Homo sapiens: one gene and its partners. The protein of the gene in region 1 purifies or fractionates together with the protein of each later gene. This does not show direct contact. Each region holds a gene or a part of one and is shown in the gene's direction. Other genes may lie near its edges. The genes, in order: ARL14EP, ACTR2 and ARPC2.

Region 1 (3,656 bases):
ACCCAGAACTGAAAAGAGCTGAGTCCCAAGGTGTATGCTTCCTCAGTTTTACAAGAAATTGCAGAAAATGTTCTAAAGCAGTTGCAGCAATTTACATTCCTACCAAAGTTATTATAAGGAGCATGTGAGAGTTGGACACATCTTAACCAGATATCAGATTTTTAAATTGATTTCAAGCAAATGTTTAATAAATGATATTTAATTTGCATTTTCCTAGGAACTATGGGGGAAACAGTTTGTATGCATGTATTGGCTTTTGTTCTCTTTCTCTGTGAATTGCCTGACTATATTTGTTTAGTTTTCCAGTGGACTCTGTCATTTTCTAATTGATTTTTGGAAGTGAGGAGTTACTCGAATATTTATGATAATAATCCTAACACCTTTCAAGTGTCTTTTTTTTTCTCCTTTAGTTATACAGAAATGTGTAAATTTTACATATAATCAAATATATCCATCTTTTTATTTATTTATTTTTTTGGTATCTGCTTGCTTGTTTGAAAAATTCTTCCATACTTCCATGTCAGAAAACCTTCTTTATTTTCTCATAAACATGTTTAGTTTTTCTTTTCATGTTTAAATCTTTAATCCACTTGTTATTGATTTTTGTTTGTGCAGAAGAGATCTAATTGTTTTTCCATATGGTTAAAGTCCCTTCTTCATTAGTGTGTGATACCCATCGATTAATAGTACCACATGTCATATACTGAGCCCTCATCTACTCATGGATCTGTTTGTTTATACTATACCAATACCATAGTTTTAATTAGAATAGGTTTAAAGTAAATCAATATGTTACTGTATTTTCCTTCAGGATTACCTTGGCTTTCTTAGACCTTTGCTCTTTCATATAGACCAGCTTGCTAAATTCCAAGGGGGTGGCAGTAGAATATCTGATGGAACTTTGATTGTAACAGAACTGAATTTACAGATGTATTCCCAGATAATTGACATATTTTTTATAATGAGCCACTCCATGATATATAGCTGCATTTATTTAGGGTACCGTTTTTGTCTTGCAGTTTGATAATTTTCTCCATGAAGGTCTTGTTGTATGTCTTTTGTAAGAGTCACATATTTTGTAAGATACAGTGTTTTTTGGTTTCTAGCATCCCTGGTGAATTCTCTTATTAGTTCTAATAGTTTGTTAAACCTCTTGTATTTCTCATGTATCTTAGGATAATATTTCTTATTTCCTCCTTTTTAATTCTTATGTGGTCTTAAATATAATCTGTAATTGCAGATGTTTTCGTGAAGTTCTGACTTTACAGGGAACGCTTCTGTTTGATTATTAAATGTCTATTATAAGACTTCGATAAATACCTTTTTTATTCCTTATTTTCTTTTAGATAGGTGTTGAATTTTATCAAATGCTTTTTCAGTTTCCTAGATAAACTTGCAGCACAAATTTGATTCTCTTTAATATTTTCTCTAGGGTGATCAGCCCATGACCTAAACCTCCAGACAAAATAAAACGGAAAATTTGCTAGAATCAAGAATGATGGATCCATGTTCAGTTGGAGTCCAGCTTCGTACTACAAATGAGTGCCATAAAACCTACTATACTCGTCACACAGGTTTTAAGACTTTGCAAGAATTGTCATCAAATGATATGCTTTTACTTCAACTTAGAACTGGAATGACACTTTCTGGGAACAATACAATTTGCTTTCATCATGTAAAAATTTACATTGACAGATTTGAGGATTTACAGAAGTCATGTTGTGACCCATTTAACATACACAAGAAATTAGCCAAAAAAAATTTGCATGTAATTGACTTAGATGATGCCACTTTTCTGAGTGCTAAATTTGGAAGACAGCTTGTACCTGGTTGGAAGCTTTGTCCAAAATGCACACAGATAATCAATGGAAGTGTGGATGTTGATACTGAAGACCGCCAGAAAAGGAAACCTGAGTCAGATGTATGTGTAATAGTCATTTTTTTCTACATTGTGAATTCTACCATGTAGGATTTTGCTTAACTATAAGAAAATCATATTTACATTATTACTAAATTTGTTAGCATACAGTGAATTAAAAGGAGGGGTGAAAGTGGATGATGTTTCTAAATATTATTCACATATACTGAAGGTCAAGATTGGGGGATAAAGAAAGTAGGCCTGGGAAAGTAATAATAAAATATGCCTAAGACTCCAAGCTACAACTTTTAGTGCGAAGACTTTAGGAGTGGGTTTTAGAATATTCTGGCCAAGCCAGGATTTAGTTTCTTTTCTGATACCAAAGTAACTACACGGGACATGGCAACCACCAAGGGTCTTTGCAGCAGGATGACTTCGCCTTTATATGAAGGACTTGGAAATCACTGCTTTAAAAGGAACATTAGAGAGGTGACTTACAGTAATTGTTTTTTATTTCACTCTTTTTTTCTCCTTTGACACTGTCTCGTTCTTGAGTTTTTTAAATGCTTGTGAATTTTCTTTGCTTCTAGTTCTGAATTCCTACTTGATATGGTCAAGGCTAATTTTAGGACTCCTTGAGGTAAAAAAAAAATAATACATTTTTACATTGTAAAGTATTAAATATTTTACCTCTATTCCTATTGACATGCCTACATGCATATTTAACCATATCAGAACAACTTAAGTTTTCATAAAGCTATCTTTTGTGTAGGACAAGTATATCAAAGAAGCACATCTCAGAATTTTTACTTGTAATTATTTCATAATTCTTACTGCTGGAATATTTTTCTCAGTTTTCTCCTTTTTATTAAACCAAGTTAAAAGATAGTTGAAATTTGAAATTATACTATTTTCCTGTTGTTGTCTTCTCAGAGGAACATCTTGAGGGCCCAGTTTATCTGTAGTTCATACTAGATACTTGCTGATAGTGTCATTGTAGATGTCTTCACCTTATCTATCCAATGTTCTTGTAGAATATATCAGCTGCAGCTCTTTCCTCCCCAAATAACAAACATAAACCCTTAAACACCGAAATTTTGTTTCACCAAAACTTTTCAAAAAGATTATAATACTATTCTAGAACTTGAAATCATATTCTCTGCTCTTAAAAATATATAAAATACAATAATAAGGACCCAGGATTGTTAGGAAATCAGTTATGTGCCACTGGATTATATAGCAGTTTTTGTGCCTTCTCTCCTGTGTTGGCAGCAGCCATTGCAGTTTTCACAATGCCTTCCTCCTCTGCTCCTAATATACCAGAGACTAAAATAAAATAATGGAAATGTTACTAATACATTAACCAATATGCTTTGAATATGGTCTAGGGCCATGTAAATTTTCTTGCACTTAGGCTCTAAAACCTTGTTTTCTTTTTTGTGTGTTCCAGACTGTCTTCCATGTTAGGGAATCGTCTGGTTTAACATTAAATAAAATGTTAATCTGTTGTCTGTTGTCAAGATTTGAGTTGATAATTTGTTTACCTTTCTTCAGGGAAGAACTGCTAAAGCTTTGAGGTCATTACAATTTACGAATCCAGGAAGGCAAACTGAATTTGCTCCAGAAACTGGTAAAAGAGAAAAAAGAAGGCTTACAAAAAATGCAACCGCTGGTTCAGACAGGTAGGCTAAGTGTTACTGAAGACATGTTAACTTGCTGCTTCACATCTGCATTGTTCCCCTATTTTTCTCTTAAATTTTGAATTTTCTGGGTTCATATTTTAAATTGGATAATGTAG
Region 2 (3,656 bases), on another chromosome or scaffold:
CAAGATTACAGGTGTGAGCCACCATTCCCAGCCAATTATTTTAGTTCTTGTTATTATAACTGTTAATGTTTTCACTTTTGAAGTAATGTGAAATAGTGCAATTTTTGCTATCTTGATGGATGAATATATACCCTGTATGAAAACTGGTGCTGAGTTCTATGGCAACATCTGCTTCCAATAAACTACTGCTCAAGCAGAATAGTTTTATTAATAAGTGATTGATAATCTTTAATTTGAATGAAAAGTCTTTTTTTTTGTTAGGCAGTAATAGTAGGTTTACAGTTGTTTTTATAGTTTCAGGGATTTCAGTTTTTGTCTTCTAACTTGGGAAATGTTTGTTGCTTAAAATATACTCATAAGAATGTTAAGATACGAACTACCCATCTGAACGATTATAATTGGAAGACTTTGAGTGATGTGATTATTTGCCACTTTGCCATGTTGTATGTCCAGTGTGTGTAGCTCTGAAGGAGAGGGGAGACGTGTCAACCTTAGCAGCCTCTTCCCTGCACTAGGATCAGACCTATGCTCCATCCCAGGCTCCTCCTGCCACCTCCAGCTTCTCTTACGATTTCTCACTTAGTAAACTTATTTATTTGCATTCAGCATGCCAAAAATGAACCTTACAAACTGGTAGGTTCTCTTTTCATTCATTCATTCATTCTATAATTTTTTTGAGATAATTTATACGCATATAAGTGAGCATTTTCATCCGGATAAATGGATACTTTTGACTATATCTGTTTATTACTTGGAGGTAGGCATAATAATTTAATATCAAAATAGTATTTAATTCCCATATTTGAGATATTTGTGTAAATTATGACTGACATTAGGCTGGCGATCATGACAGATGTTATACAGAAATGTGGGAACAATAGGGATAATGATGAGAACAGATTCTCTTCCATATCATTTAAGTTTGTATCAAGTAAACTGGATTTTGACTTAAAAGAGAGTTTGTGATTTGGGAGAGAAGAGTGTGTGAGAGGTGTGTGTGTGTGTGTGTGTGCACGTGGTGTGTGTGTTATGTTTTAGTTTGAAAATACTAAAAAATACTAGATGTTATTCTTTTCCTCTGAGGTAGTTTTTCCTCCATGTCTTAGGTCACATTATTTAAGAAGACACTGAGAAAAAATGAACTACTACTCCTGAATTCTGTTCATTTTAAGGGTGGGAAGTGTATTCCAGTTCATCACTATCAACCACTGCCAAGGGGAAATAGCTGTGAGCAAGTGGGTTATCTATTGCATATGCTATCATATCATGCTAACTTCTGCCTTAAAAAGTAATCCAGGCTGGGTGCCGTGGCTCACGCCTGTAATCCCAGCACTTTGAGAGGCTGAGGCGAGTGGATCACGAGGTCAGGAGATTGAGACCATCTTGACCAACTTGGTGAAACCCCTTCTCTACTAAAAATACAAAAATTAGCCAGGTGCAGTGGCGAGCGCCTGTAATCCCATCTACTCAGGAGGCTGAGGCAGGAGAATTGCTTGAACCCAGGAGGCAGAGGTTGCAATGAGCCGAGATCACGCCACTGCACTCCAGCCTGGATGACCGAGTGAGACTCAGTCTCAATAAAATAAAATAAAATAATCCAAAAGAATTGTATTATACTTTTAGAAATGGATAGCTGTACCTGAAAAATGCCCTTACCTTGGTGGCTCAATATAAACTAAGACTAGGTTTGTGGGCTTGTAAGAAGACATCTGAATAATATGTTTTATGTAGTTTCTATTAATAAAATGTAAACATGAGGTGAAAGGATAGGAATTGAGGTGGCATTGGGAGTGTGAACTTTCCTCATTTCAGACGAATTTTTCATAAAAGCTTTAATCTGATTGTCATGACTGTAACATATTTGAAAAAACTCTGTTTTTAAAAGACTAAGTGGGGCCGGGTGCGGTGGCTTATGCCTGTAAGCCCCAGGCTGGTGGATTACATGAGGTCAGGAGTTAGAGACCAGCCTGGCCAACATGGTGAAACCCCGTCTCTACTAAAAATACAAAAATTAGCTGGGCGTGGTGGCAGGCGCCTGTAGTCCCAGCTACTTGGGAGGCTGAGGCAGAATTGCTGGAACCTAGGAGGCAGAGGTTGCAGTGAGCTGCGATGACGTCACTGCACTCCAGCCTGGGTGACAGAGCGAGACTCCATCTCAAAAAAAAAAAAAAAGACAAGTGAAATTCTGGATGGCAGAATGTCCTAGGCTATTTATAATTAAATGTGGTTCATCAGCGTCATCTCCAACAGGGCTGCTGTAGAGATCTTTGAAAATACCAAATTTTTATGTTTTGGAGAGCTACATAAGATCTTGCTAAGTTTTACCGCATTAAACAAAAGAGTTTCTTGTAGATAGTAGCTTTCTTTTGTTGTTGGTTTTTTGTTTTTTTGGGTTTTGTTTTGTTTTGTTTTGTTTTTTTTGAGACAGGTCTCATTCTGTTGCCCAGGCTGGAGTGCAGTGGCGTGATCTCAGCTCACTGCAACCTCCGCCTCCCAGGTTCAAGTGATTCTCATACCTCAGCCTCCCAAGTAACTGGGATTACAGGCATGCACCACCATACCTGGCTAATTTTTGTTGGTTTTAGTAGAGATGGGTTTCCATCATGTTGGTCAGGCTGATCTCAAACTTCTGGCCTCATGTGATTCAAGTGGTGTGCATAGTAGCCTTCTATCAAGAGGTACATTGCTCTTTTCTGTCTACCTTTGTTTTATTACTGTCATGTATCACATTCAGGTACTATTTTTCATCCTTAATTCTAAGAATGTGTGGTGCCTGGAGCCATAGAAAAACAGACTTTTTCTGAATATTAAATATATTTTAAAACAATCATGGTATCATACTGTTAAGTCAACAGCAAAACTTTTAATATTTATTGATCATTTACTGTGTACCTATTATGTGCCAGACGCTGTTCTAGGCAGTTGGAATTCATCAGTAAACACAGTGTAGCTAACATTAAATAAATGCTTGTTAAAGAGGGTGCAGACTATGATTACATTTCCTTTCTTATATAGCTTCCTCCTCCCACCCTGAAATTTTTAATTGCCCTTTCCTTGCAATGTCTGCTCTTACTAGACTATGTATTATTTATTTTTTGTATGTTTTTTGAGACAGGGTCTCACATGATCACGGCAGCCTTAACCTCCCAGGCTCAAGTGATCCTCCCACCTCAGTCTCTGGAATAGCTGGGACTATAGCACATGCCACAATGCCTGGCCAATTTTTAAATTTTTTGTAATTTTTTCCGGGGGGGAATCTTGCCGTGTTGCCCATACTGGTCTCGAGCTTCTGGGCTCAAGTGATCTACCTGCCTAAGCCTCCCAAAGTGCTGGAATTACAGGTGTGAGCCACTGGGCCCAGCGTAAACAGACTATACAAGAATTTGTAACTGCCGGGCACAGTGGCTCATGTCTGTAATCCCAGCAACTCAGGAGGCTGAGACAGGAGGATCATTGGAGGCCAGGAGTTCCAGACCAGCCCGTGCAACATAGTGAGACCCCATCTCTACAAAAAATTTTAAAACTTACGCTAGGCGTGGTGGCTCACTCCTGTAATCCCAGCACTTTGGGAGGCCGAGGCAGGTGGACCACTTGAGGTCAGGAGTTTGAGGACAACATGGTGAAACCCCGTCTCTACTAAAAATAAAAAGAATTAC
Region 3 (3,656 bases), on another chromosome or scaffold:
ACCAACCTGGGAGGTAGATGTTTTGTCCCCATTTTGTAGAAGAGGAACCTGAGGCCCGGTGACATTTGAGGAGCATTGCCTGTGGTCACATAGCCAATAAATTCTGAATTCTAAATAACTTGCTTTTTCTCACCCCCAGCATCTGAAATTTTAGCAGCTGGTAGAACAGTAAATAATGTAACTATTAATTCTGGGGGCCTATTTAGTGGAACACTTTTCCTGGGCCAGTCTTCCTCCCGCTCCTTTGTAATTTTAAACCACAGAAGTAAAATAACAAACGCCAGGTCTTGGAATTGAGAAGCAATCTTGTGATGGTATACTTCACGCTCAGCAAACTCATCGTTAAGGCACTGAGTTCTCGGACCTCTAACTCCCAGAAGACTTCCCATGAAGTCTCCTTTGGCCTAATACTCTCCTCAGCAGCCATTCTCTCTCTTCTAGCCATAAATAGTAAACTAAAATATTAATGAATGTGATTTGACAAATATTGCTAAGTCAGACAGCAGACCACTTAAGATCGATCGTAGCAACTTTTCCCACAAGGATCTGTGCTCAGGATACTTTATGCCTAGAGAAATTTGAAATTAGAGACTCAAAGTGTGTATGACTTGGAGCCCAAAGGTTATTTATTTATAGTTGGTTTTTCTCAGGTCTTTTGACAAAGTAGGAGAGTGAGGAACTCAGCCCTTCTTTGGCTGAATTAAAACCTAAAGGTTAAAAAAAAACTTACTAAGTGATGTAATAATGGGCTTTTATAAACTCCCTGACTCTTCAGCACAGTCAGCCTTCCCCAGGAAAGTATGCTTCCATGCTTCCTCCCATTGGTCATCCTCTTAATATTTCATTCAGTTGGTCCATGATTAACATTTCCATATTTTTGTTCTTTGCTCTTGTTTTCTAGAGGTGAGGAATGGTATTGGACTCGTTGCCTTTGTTTCCTGGCTACAGTTTCAAAATGAAGGCTCAGAAGCAATTTAAATTTTCATCTAGTTTTTTCCTTCTATTCTGAACTCTCTGCTTCTCCGTAAACCCACTTGATACTTCAATTCGTAGAGATACCCAGTGCGCTTTTCCTAAGTCACATATAGGGCTTTGAAGAAGCAAGGTGAAGCTTTGTATGATTCGTATAGGTTGATTTTTCAGCAGGGCTAGCATGCTTCATAGAAGCCAGTTTTTTTGAAAGGTATTGTCTGGCTTCTATATCAGCTTTTTAACACTCATAAACCATGTTATATATTCCATTATTTCCCAGCATCCCTGGAGAGCAACTTAGTCTTCGTTTCTTTCGCAGGTAATGGAGCAGAGATCGTGGAAAGATACGTACTTGATTAAGAGGTCTTGAGCAAGTTAGACAAAAATAAATGTGAAAACATGCGCATCTTGTTTGCTAGCCCCTAAAACAAAGTGGAATCATTGAGTTTACAGGTAGCTAGCTGGTAAGGCAATAGTCTTCATTTGCTTCCTACTTTGGACTTCAGGTCTGTTCTTGTGTTATATGTAGTAGTTCCATGAGGTAAATAGGTTCATTTTTATTCCCCCATTTTATTGATGATAGGGGAGAATGCAAAGGTGTAAGGGTATTTGTCCCAAAACATGAGCGTGATGAGAAAGCTAAAGTTGTAAAGCAGATGTCCTGACTATTCTTAGTGATTTCATAGTGTTATTTTGTGTTACACTGTCTATTTTAAGTTCCGAGCTGGAATTTACAAAGCAAGACAAAACTAGGGTAGAACTAAAGAGGGTTTCTTGAAGGTGAGTGGTAAGTACTTTGGTGATGTAAAGGAAGAAAGAAAGATGAGTAGGAAGGCTTACAGACGGGTTTTGAAGTGGAATAGAACTTGCCGTTTTGTTTATGGCCCGAAATCATCCTTTCTCTTTAAGCATATTAAAACCATTCTACATTATACTTAGCCATTTTCCTGCTGAACGTTTTACTCCTAATACCACTGTCCTGTGGGGAAGGCATTGACCAAAAGATGGCATTTTGTGGTATATAGCATGTTGTTAGGAAATTCAGAATTGAAAGTGAGCACCAACCAAAGCAGTAGATTCAACAGCAGGTGAAAAACAAAAGCTATAGCTGGCCTTCCTTTTTTATCTGACCTTCCTTTTTTATCCTCTACTTAAAGCAAGTCCAAAGGTTCAGGTCCATGAGAAAATGAATTGTGTACTCTGATTGGCAGTAACCTAAAATTTATACAGAATGGTCTGATCTTAAGTGAAGCTCAGGTGCCTTTCCAGTTCCCTTTGAAGGTAAGCAGCAATACAGTCATCTTAACTGAGGACCTTTTTTGTTGTTTACAGAAACAAACCGGAAGCAGTAGAAGTAACATTTGCAGGTAAGCATCTTTATCTCAGCCCTCTGAAGAGAAGGTACAATATGAAAAATAGGAAATAGGCTGGGTGCAGTGGCACATGCCTGTAATCCCAGCACTTTGGGAGTCCGAGGCAGGTGGATCACCTGATGTCAAGAGTTAAAGAACAGCCTGGCAAACATGGTGAAACCCCCTCTACTAAAAATACAAAAATTAGCCGGGCATGGTGGTGGGCACCTGTAATCCCAGCTACTCGGAAGGCTGAGGCAGGAGAATCACTTGAACTGGGAGGCAGGAGTTGCTGTGAGCTGAGATCACACCACTGCACTCCAGCCTGGGCGATACAGTGAGACTGTCTCAAAAAAAAAAAGAGAGAGACAAGAAAAGAAAATTGTACCTAAAATAAGCTTTGACATGGATTGGGTGCGGTAGCTCATGCATGTAATCCCAGCACTTTGGGAGGCCACGGCAGGCGGATCACGACGTCAGGAGATCGAGACTATCCTGGCTAACATGATGAAACCCTGTCTGTACTAAAAATACAAAAAATTAGCTGGGCATGGTGGCGGGCACCTGTAGTCCCAGCTACTCCGGAGGCCGAGGCAGGAGAATGGCATGAACCCAGGAGGCGGAGCTTGCAGTGAGCAGACATCGCGCCACTGCACTCCAGCCTGGGCGACAGTGAGACTCCATCTCAAAAAAAAAAAAAAAAAAAAAAAGCTTTGACATTTTGGATACTGTCCCTCATCAGGTCTTTTTGAGCTCTTTATAATAGATGACCATTTCATGTATTTAATCCACTGATGACTGACAATATAAAGTTACCTGCTGATAAATTAGAAGTTTGGATTTAATTTTGTGGTAAAACTGAGGTTTTTTTGTTGTGTTTTTTTTTTAATTTGGAAATATTACATTATCTTCAAGTAGCTGTCAGTCTTAGTTTGCCTAGCACTAGAGTAGTAGGGAAACATGAACAGCTAGAGATGTGTTCATCAAGTCAGAGAGAGATGTTGCTGCTTTCTGTTCCCTATAAAGAATTAGGTGTTGGTACTATTTACTTGTTAGGTGAATGAACTCAGAGGAATACAACCACCCTTTCTACAACAAGAGTCCTCGACAAGATGATCTTGGAAGACTTTTGCAGCTCTGAAGTGCTGTTACCTGGAGGCCAGGCACCATCCCTTTACCCTCCTACTAACTGGCATTGCCAGATATCCCTTCGTGATTCCCATGACAGCTCCATAAAGTGATGGCACTCAGCACCTAATTCTAGTTTCAGGAACCTATTCCTAGTTTCAGGAATTACACAGGCTGAGTCAGTCCTGTGTACTGCAGAAAGAT

The links.
Region 2: the proteins of ARL14EP (region 1) and ACTR2 purify together in Homo sapiens (affinity purification with mass spectrometry; one large-scale study listed by BioGRID and IntAct). This does not show direct contact.
Region 3: the proteins of ARL14EP (region 1) and ARPC2 purify together in Homo sapiens (affinity purification with mass spectrometry; one large-scale study listed by BioGRID and IntAct). This does not show direct contact.

The regions. Positions count from the first base shown.
Region 1 is NC_000011.10:30,329,454-30,333,109, forward strand, and holds part of ARL14EP (ARL14 effector protein), read left to right. Parts: intron 1-1,432; 5' UTR 1,433-1,495; coding exon 1,496-1,921; intron 1,922-3,412; coding exon 3,413-3,540; intron 3,541-3,656.
Region 2 is NC_000002.12:65,234,179-65,237,834, forward strand, and holds part of ACTR2 (actin-related protein 2), read left to right. Parts: intron 1-3,656. UniProt on the Homo sapiens protein: ATP-binding component of the Arp2/3 complex, a multiprotein complex that mediates actin polymerization upon stimulation by nucleation-promoting factor (NPF).
Region 3 is NC_000002.12:218,223,616-218,227,271, forward strand, and holds part of ARPC2 (actin-related protein 2/3 complex subunit 2), read left to right. Parts: intron 1-2,304; coding exon 2,305-2,339; intron 2,340-3,656. UniProt on the Homo sapiens protein: Actin-binding component of the Arp2/3 complex, a multiprotein complex that mediates actin polymerization upon stimulation by nucleation-promoting factor (NPF).